2 linked regions of the Homo sapiens genome follow. The protein of the gene in region 1 purifies or fractionates together with the protein of each later gene. This does not show direct contact. Each region holds a gene or a part of one and is shown in the gene's direction. Other genes may lie near its edges.

Region 1 (3,818 bases):
CTTGCCTTTTCTGAAAGTTCCCCTTCACATTCCAGCCCACCCCACTGTCCTGACCTTTTTTATTTTGATTCCTAGCTTCAGCATGAGCGCCTGTCTCGCAGTGACCCCAGCGCAAAGTACCATGGCATCCTCCAGGCCTCTAGGCAGATTCTGCAGGAGGAGGGTCCGACAGCTTTCTGGAAAGGACACGTCCCAGCTCAGATTCTCTCCATAGGCTATGGAGCTGTCCAAGTAGGTGGCAAGGGACCTGGCCAGACCTCTGGGGTCACGTTGCTCAGTGGAGGAGCAGAGGGAGGGTGAGGCAAGCAGGAATGCCGCGCAGGGCAGGACGGAAGAGGCAGGCCCCACGCTTCCCACCTGCCTCACCCGGGAGCCTTCCTGACCAGCAGTACCGTAGGCATTGCCCTCCGCCATGTCCCTGCGTCTATCCTGTGTGACTTAGGTGTTGCATCTTGGAGACCGATTTGATGTCATGCCTTCTGTGAGGCTTGGCGAAGGACAGCACTAATGCATTTCAGTTTTTGAAATACCACCTTCACATATGTGGTTCATCTGAACTTCACCACACCGTCATGAGGAGGGCAGGGTAGCTGTCATGTGGATCTCAGGGAGGAGAAGTCAGCTGTCCGAGGCCACACAGCCTGCACATGGCGGGGCTAGGGTTAGAACTCATGCTTCGTTCAGTGGAGCACTAGTATAGTCATAGTGCACAGCATGTGATTTTATGCAGTAGATGTGTTTAAGAACCAGCCCTGTACAGTGCAAACCATGGGCCAGGCCCCTGTTGGAAGCACTTCACATACACTCTGTCACAGCAGTCCTTAAGGTAGGGGCTGTTGTCCCTCCCATGTCATGCATGAGAAGACTGAGGTGGACAGAGCTTACATAATTAACCCAACCAAAGCCACTGGCTAGAAAATGGCAGAGCCACGACCCCCACCTAGGCAGCTAGTGCCAGAGATGTCCCTTCCTACTCTTCCTGTGACATCACAGTGACCGCCCAAGTCAGGTGCTTACTGGCTGGGCATGCCCTGCGATCCTGTCTCTGCACTTGTCTGCAAACAGATATTGCAGCATGACGAATAAATACAGCAACAGGATAGTCTCAAGAAGCCAGGCGTGGGCTGGACTCAGTGGCTCACACCTGTAATCCCAGCATCTGAGCCCGGGAGGCGGAGGCTGCAGTGAGCCACGATCATGCCACTGCACTTCAGCCTGGGCAACACAGCCAGACCCTGTCTCAAAAAAAGAAAAGAAGCCAGGCCATCTTCAGTTGGCTGAAGGAAGATCTGAGCATAGCCCTGGTATAGTGGCTCACACCTGTAATCCCATCACTTTGGGAGGCTGAGGTGGGAGGATGGCTTGAGCTCAGGAGTTTGAGACCAGCCTGGGCAACATTAGGGAGACCTCCTCTCTACTAAAAATAAAAAATAAATTAGCCAGATATGGTGGTACACACCTGTCGTCCCAGCTATTCCAGAGGCAGGAGAATAATTTGAGCTAGAGAAGTCAAGGCTGCTGTGAACTGTGATCGAGCCACTGCACTCCAGCCTGGGCAACTGAGCACGACCTTGCCTCAAAAAGCAAAACAGGGCCAAGCTCGGTGGCTCATGTGTGTAATCTCAGCCCTTTGGGAGCCCAAGGCGGGCAGATTGCTTGAGCTCAGGAGTTTGAGACCAGCCTTGGCAACATAGTGAAACCCTGGTTCTACAAAAAATACCAAAATTAGCTGGACATGGTGGCATGCGCCTGTAATCCCAGCTACTTGAGGAGCTGAGGTGAGAGGATCACTGGAGCCCAGGAGGTTGAGGCTGCAGTGAGCCGTGTTTGTGCCACTGTACTCCAGCCTGGGTGACAGAGAGACACTCTTGTCCCTAAAAAAAAAAAAAAAAAAAAAAAAAGAAAGATCTGAATGTAAGGGGGTCACCCTGTGGAACATGCTCCCAAAAGAATCTGCCCCAGAAAAGAATGATTCTCGAACAGTGCCGCCACCAGGTGCCGCCGCCAGCTGCACTGAAGGGGTCCCTGCAGGAATCAGAGCATGGCCGTCTTCCCCAGTTCTCAGAAAACTAAGTTAGCCAGTGACATTTTCTGATATACATTGTTCTCATGTATCTTTTTTATTTTTTCTTGAGACAGAGTCTCACTCTGTTGCCCAGGCTGGAGTGCAGTGGCGCAATCTCAGCTCACTGCAACCTCCGCCTCCTGGGTTCAGGCGATTCTTCTGCCTCAGCCTCCCAAGTAGCTGGGGTTACAGGCCCACGCCACCATGCCTGGCTAATTTTTGTATTTTTAGTAGAGACAGGGTTCCACCATATTGGCCAGGCTGGTCTCCAACTCCTGACCTCATGATCTGCCCACCTCGGCCTTCCAAAGTGCTGGGATTACAGGCGTGGGCCACTGCACCCAGTCTTTTTTTTGAGACCGAGTCTTGCTCTGTCGCCCGGGCTGGAGAGCGCAGTGGCATGATCTTGGCTCAGTGCAGCTCTGCCTCCCGGGTTCAAGTGATTCTCCTGCCTCAGCCCCCCAAGTACCTGGGACTACAGGTGCCCGCCACCATGCCTGACTAATTTTTGTATTTTTAGTAAAGACAGGGTTTCACTATGTTGACCCGGCTGGTCTCGAACTTGTGACCTCGTGATCTGCCCGCCTCGGCCCCCCAGAGTGCTGGGATTACAAGTGTGAGCCACTGCACCTGGCCCCCATATATCTTCTTAACCCTTTGAGTGTCTGACTCTACTCAAGTATCAAATGGCATCCGAGTTTTGCGTAGAATGTTGTATTTATCATATGCTGTCACTGCTCAAGAAGAACATTTCCTGACCTTTTCCTCGCCCCTCCACCTGGGCCCCAGCCGGGTCACGGGTGATGTATTTGGGGAGTATTTGGTCCTCACCCTCATCCTTTGGGCTGTCGGTGACTTCTTCACTTACTCTTGCAGTTCTTGTCATTTGAAATGCTGACGGAGCTGGTCCACAGAGGCAGCGTGTATGACGCCCGGGAATTCTCAGTGCACTTTGTATGTGGTGGCCTGGCTGCCTGTATGGCCACCCTCACTGTGCACCCCGTGGATGTTCTGCGCACCCGCTTTGCAGCTCAGGGTGAGCCCAAGGTGAGTGGCCAGGAGCCAGACCGGGGAAGCCCAAATAAGGAAGGTGTTGTCACAGGGGTAGCATTCTTTATTTTTTATTTATTTATTTATTTATTTTTGTTTTGTTCTGTTTTGTTTTGTTTGAGACAGAATCTCGCTCTGTCATGCAGGCTGGAGTGCAGTGGTGCGATCTTGGCTTACTGCAAGCTCCACCTCCCGAGTTCAAGCGATTCTCCTGCCTCAGCCTCCCGAGTAGCTGGGATTACAGGCACCCGCCACCACGCCTGGCTAATTTTTTTTGTATTTTTAGTAGAGACGGGGTTTCACCATGTTAGCCAGGATGGTCTCGATCTCCTGACCTCACGATCCGCCCGCCTCGGCCTCCCAAAGTGCTAGGATTACAGGCATGAGCCACTGCGCCCGGCCTATTTTTTATTTATTTATTTATTTATTTTGAGACAGAGTCTCGCTCTGTTGCCAGGCTGGAGTGCAGTGGTGCGATCTATTTTTTTCTTTTATTTGATAAGCATGTTTTTTTTAAATATATGATTTTTATTTTTATTTTTATTTTTAGTTATTTATTTATTTTTTTTGAGACAGAGTCTCACTCTGTCGCCCGGGCTGGAGTGCAGTGGCACAGTCTCGGCTACTGCAAGCTCCGCCTCCTGGGTTCACGCCATTCTCCCTCCTCAGCCTCCCGAGTAGCTGGGACTACAGGTGCCCGCCA
Region 2 (3,818 bases), on another chromosome or scaffold:
TCACACATTTACCCACACTTACACATAAACCCACACACTCTTGCTACTGAAATTGTACTCTTAAAGGTTACTGATGACTTTATCAATTGTTTTTCTCTGTTAGTTTAGATTCACCTAATTACAAAAAGGATTTGAGATGCTACCCAATGAGCCATATAGTGCTATGCTGTCCAACACAGTAGCTACTAGCTACATATGGCTATTTAAATTTTAACTAATTAAGGCTGGGCACGGTGGCTCACACCTGTAATCCCAGCACTTTGGGAGGCTGAGGCGGGTGGATCATTTGAGGTCAGGAGTTTGAGACCAGCCTGGCCAACATAGTGAAACCCCCATCTCTACTAAAAGTTAAAAAATTAGCTGGGCAATAGTGGCGCGCACCTGTAATCCCAGCTACTTGGGAGGCTGAGGCAGGAGAATCGCTTGAGCCTGGGAGGTGGAGGTTGCAGTGAGCCAAGATTGTGCCACTGCACTCCAGTCTGGGCGACAAAGTGAGAAAAAAAATTTTTTTAATTAAATAAAATTTATTTACATAAGCTTTTTGTTTATTTAAACTTTATATTTAAATAAAATTAATTTTTTATTTAATTTTCAGTCATACTAGCCACATGTTTCAAGCTCTCCTTAGGTAGATGATAGAACTTTTCCATCACAGAAAGTTCTATTGGACAGTGCTGATATACTGTCCTATAATATGTTAGTAATGATACCTAACTTTTCATATAGTAGAGTGTAAGCCATTTGAGGGTGGCATAGTCACCTGTTTATAAAGTTCTTATTCATATTTGATGATTCACTTATTAGTATTAGAAGTTGGTAATAAGAATAAAAACAAATTTTGATTTTATCAAAAACACTAAATGGAGGAATCTCTAAGCACTTTATGCAATTTTGATTCTGACTATATTTGCTAAACACTAATATCACACACATGAAAATCCAGTCCTGATCTTAAGCTACATCCTTTCAACCGTGATGAAGCATTGTTTCCTGAATAATGGAAATCATTCAGTTTTTGAACAGATGCGTAATGAGTACCTATGTGCCAATCACTAGGCTAAGATTGCTCTAGTAAAAAAGATGGCAGTTCCTGCCTTCACAAAACTTATGGGGTAGAAGGGAAAACAGATAGTAATCTATAATTATAATAAAATACAGTACATGTTGGAACAGAATATCTGCCAGGAGTACTTAACCTAGTCTAGGGGTCAGAGAAGATCTGATCTTAATTTGTCACTTGGGTTTGGCCTTAGAGATCTTTGCTGCCTCTCATTGTTCCTGCAACACAGTTTAACTGAATGATTTTTTTTCATATTTAGTTGCCTGAAACCCACCAACTCCTACAGTTGAGACGATTTGCTCATGGAACAGCAGGTCTGGTGTTCCTTACGGCCCTCTCAGGTAGGACTCAGCTCATCAAAGATGACCTGTTTGCATTGCACTCTAAGCTGGGACCTCTTGCCTAATGCTTTGCCCCTTCCTCCTGCATCTTTATATTTCCTTTTCACATCTGTTTCTCTCATTCCCCCATCTTCACCCTGTTTCCTGTTCCTTTCTCTCTTCCAAAAATTCTACTTTACTGTCAATTGAACAAAAATATTGAACATCTACCTAGATCCAGATGGCCTAGGTTCAAATCCTGGCTTCACTACCTGTGAACTATATGACCTTTGCAAGCTCTGTAACCTCTCTGGGCCTTAGAGACCTTATCTATAAAATGGAGATTACGACAACAGTATGACTGCTAAATGTGAAATGTGTAGCATCGTTGTTGGCATGTAGCAAAGGCTACATAAGTGTTAGCTGTTACTATATATAAACATTGTTATCATCACATTACATCAACATGGGTCAGAGAAAAGGCTTGCCCTCAGAGATGGTTGCAGGTGGAGAGTTCATTGGCACAGAGAGACCAACACAGGATTTTTTCATTCTTTTTTTTGAGACTGAGTCTCACTCTGTTGCCCAGGCTGGAGTGCAGTGGCATGATCTCAGCTCACTGCAACCTCTGCCTCCCTAAATCCAAGCGATTCTCGTGCCTCAGCCTCCCGAGTAGCTAAGACTACAGGTGCACACCACCACGCCCAGCTGATTTTTGTATTTTTAGTAGAGATGGGGTTTCACCATGTTGGCCAGGCTGGCCTCGAACTTCTGACCTCAGGTGATCCACCCGCCTTAGCCTCCCAAAGTGCTGGGATTACAGGCATGAGCTACCATGCCTGGCCGTTTTCATTCTTTAACCCACACTTCCACCACTGCTGCTCTCATTCTAGAACTGCACTATCCAGTAGAGGAGCCTGTAGCCTCATGTGGATATTTAAACTTAAATTAATTAAGGTTAAATAAAATTTAAAATTTAGTTCTTCAGTCACACTAGCAACATTTCAGATGCTCCACAGGCACATGTGGCTAGGGGCTAGTATATTGGTTGGCACAAATATAGAATACTTCCACTCTCACAGAAAGTTCTATTGATAGTACTGCTCTGGACTAAAAATAATATTGATTCAAACCAATGAGCCACTCAACACTTTTATTTTTGGCATAAGAGCATGAATTTTTACTTCATAAGGGACATTTAAAAAAAATATGGAGTGGGTTGGGCATGGTGGCTCACACCTGTAATTCCAGCACTTTGGGATGCTGAGGCAGGTAGATTGCTTGAGCCAGGGAGTTCAAGACCAGCCTGGGCAACATGGTGAAACCTCGTCTCTACAAAAAATACAAAAATTAGCCATGTGTGGTGGTATTCACCTGTAGTCTCAGCTACTCAGGGGGCTGAGGCGGGAGGATTGCTTGAGCCCAGGAGGTCGAGGCTGCAGTGAGCGGAGATTGCGCTGCTGCACTCCAGCCTGGGTGACAGAGCAAGACCCTGACTCAAAAAAAGAAAAAAAGGCCAGGCATGGTGGCTTATGCCTGTAATCCCAGCACTTTGGGAGGCCGAGGCAGGCGGATCACCTGAGGTTGGGAGTTCGAGACCAGCCTGGTCAACGTGGTGAAACCTCGTCTCTACCAAAGGGCGCACCTATAGTCCCAGCTACTCGGGAGGCTGAGGCAGAAGAATTGCATGAACCCTGGAGGCAGAGGTTGCAGTGAGCCGAGATCATGCCACTGCACTCCAGCCTGGGGGACAGAGCCAGACTGCGTCTCAAAAAAAAAAAGAAAGAAAAAAGCGAGTGTGACCCAAACATTTCTGGATTTTCTTTGATAATAAATAATGGATCAGACATCCATTAATTCATGAATACCCTCTTTATTTGTTTATCCAGGATTTAGTTTATAAGTTTTGGGATTTTTCTCACTTCCGTATTCAGTCAACAAACATTTATTGAGCATTTGGGGAAGACAGATAACGCACAATAGAAACATAATGTGCTAGATGATATTTAGTGCCATGAAGAAAAATAAATTAGGGTCAGGAGACAGAAAGTGGGCTAGGATCATCAAGCGAAATCTCTTTGGTAAGGTGACATCTGAGTGGAAGCTGAGGAAATAAGGGAGTCAGTCATGCAGACATCTGTGGGAGAGCATTTCTAAAATAAATCAGTAGCACTCAGTGGCGGGGTGAGGAGGGCATCAAAATCACTAAGGGAATTTTTCTAAGCTAATAAGCCTCTCCCCCTCCCCCCACACCACAGCCTCTACTCCACTTCTCTAGAGGAAGCAGAATCTTGGGGTGGGAGCAGGTAAGGATGCAGAGATTTGAAGTTTCCTTGGTGATTGTGATGTATCTTCTCTGTTGGAGAACTCCTGTTGCAGATATGTCTATTATTCTCTGACTGTTCCCTTAGTTTAACTCTGGGATAACAGACTTTTTC

The links.
Region 2: the proteins of SLC25A19 (region 1) and COX15 fractionate together in Homo sapiens (co-fractionation; one large-scale study listed by IntAct). This does not show direct contact.

Annotation. Positions count from the first base shown.
Region 1 is NC_000017.11:75,282,717-75,286,534, reverse strand, and holds part of SLC25A19 (mitochondrial thiamine pyrophosphate carrier), read left to right. Parts: intron 1-75; coding exon 76-231; intron 232-2,941; coding exon 2,942-3,112; intron 3,113-3,818. UniProt on the Homo sapiens protein: Mitochondrial transporter mediating uptake of thiamine diphosphate into mitochondria. It is not clear if the antiporter activity is affected by the membrane potential or by the proton electrochemical gradient.
Region 2 is NC_000010.11:99,718,570-99,722,387, reverse strand, and holds part of COX15 (heme A synthase COX15), read left to right. Parts: intron 1-1,319; coding exon 1,320-1,401; intron 1,402-3,818. UniProt on the Homo sapiens protein: Catalyzes the second reaction in the biosynthesis of heme A, a prosthetic group of mitochondrial cytochrome c oxidase (CcO). Heme A is synthesized from heme B by two sequential enzymatic reactions catalyzed by heme O synthase (HOS) and heme A synthase (HAS).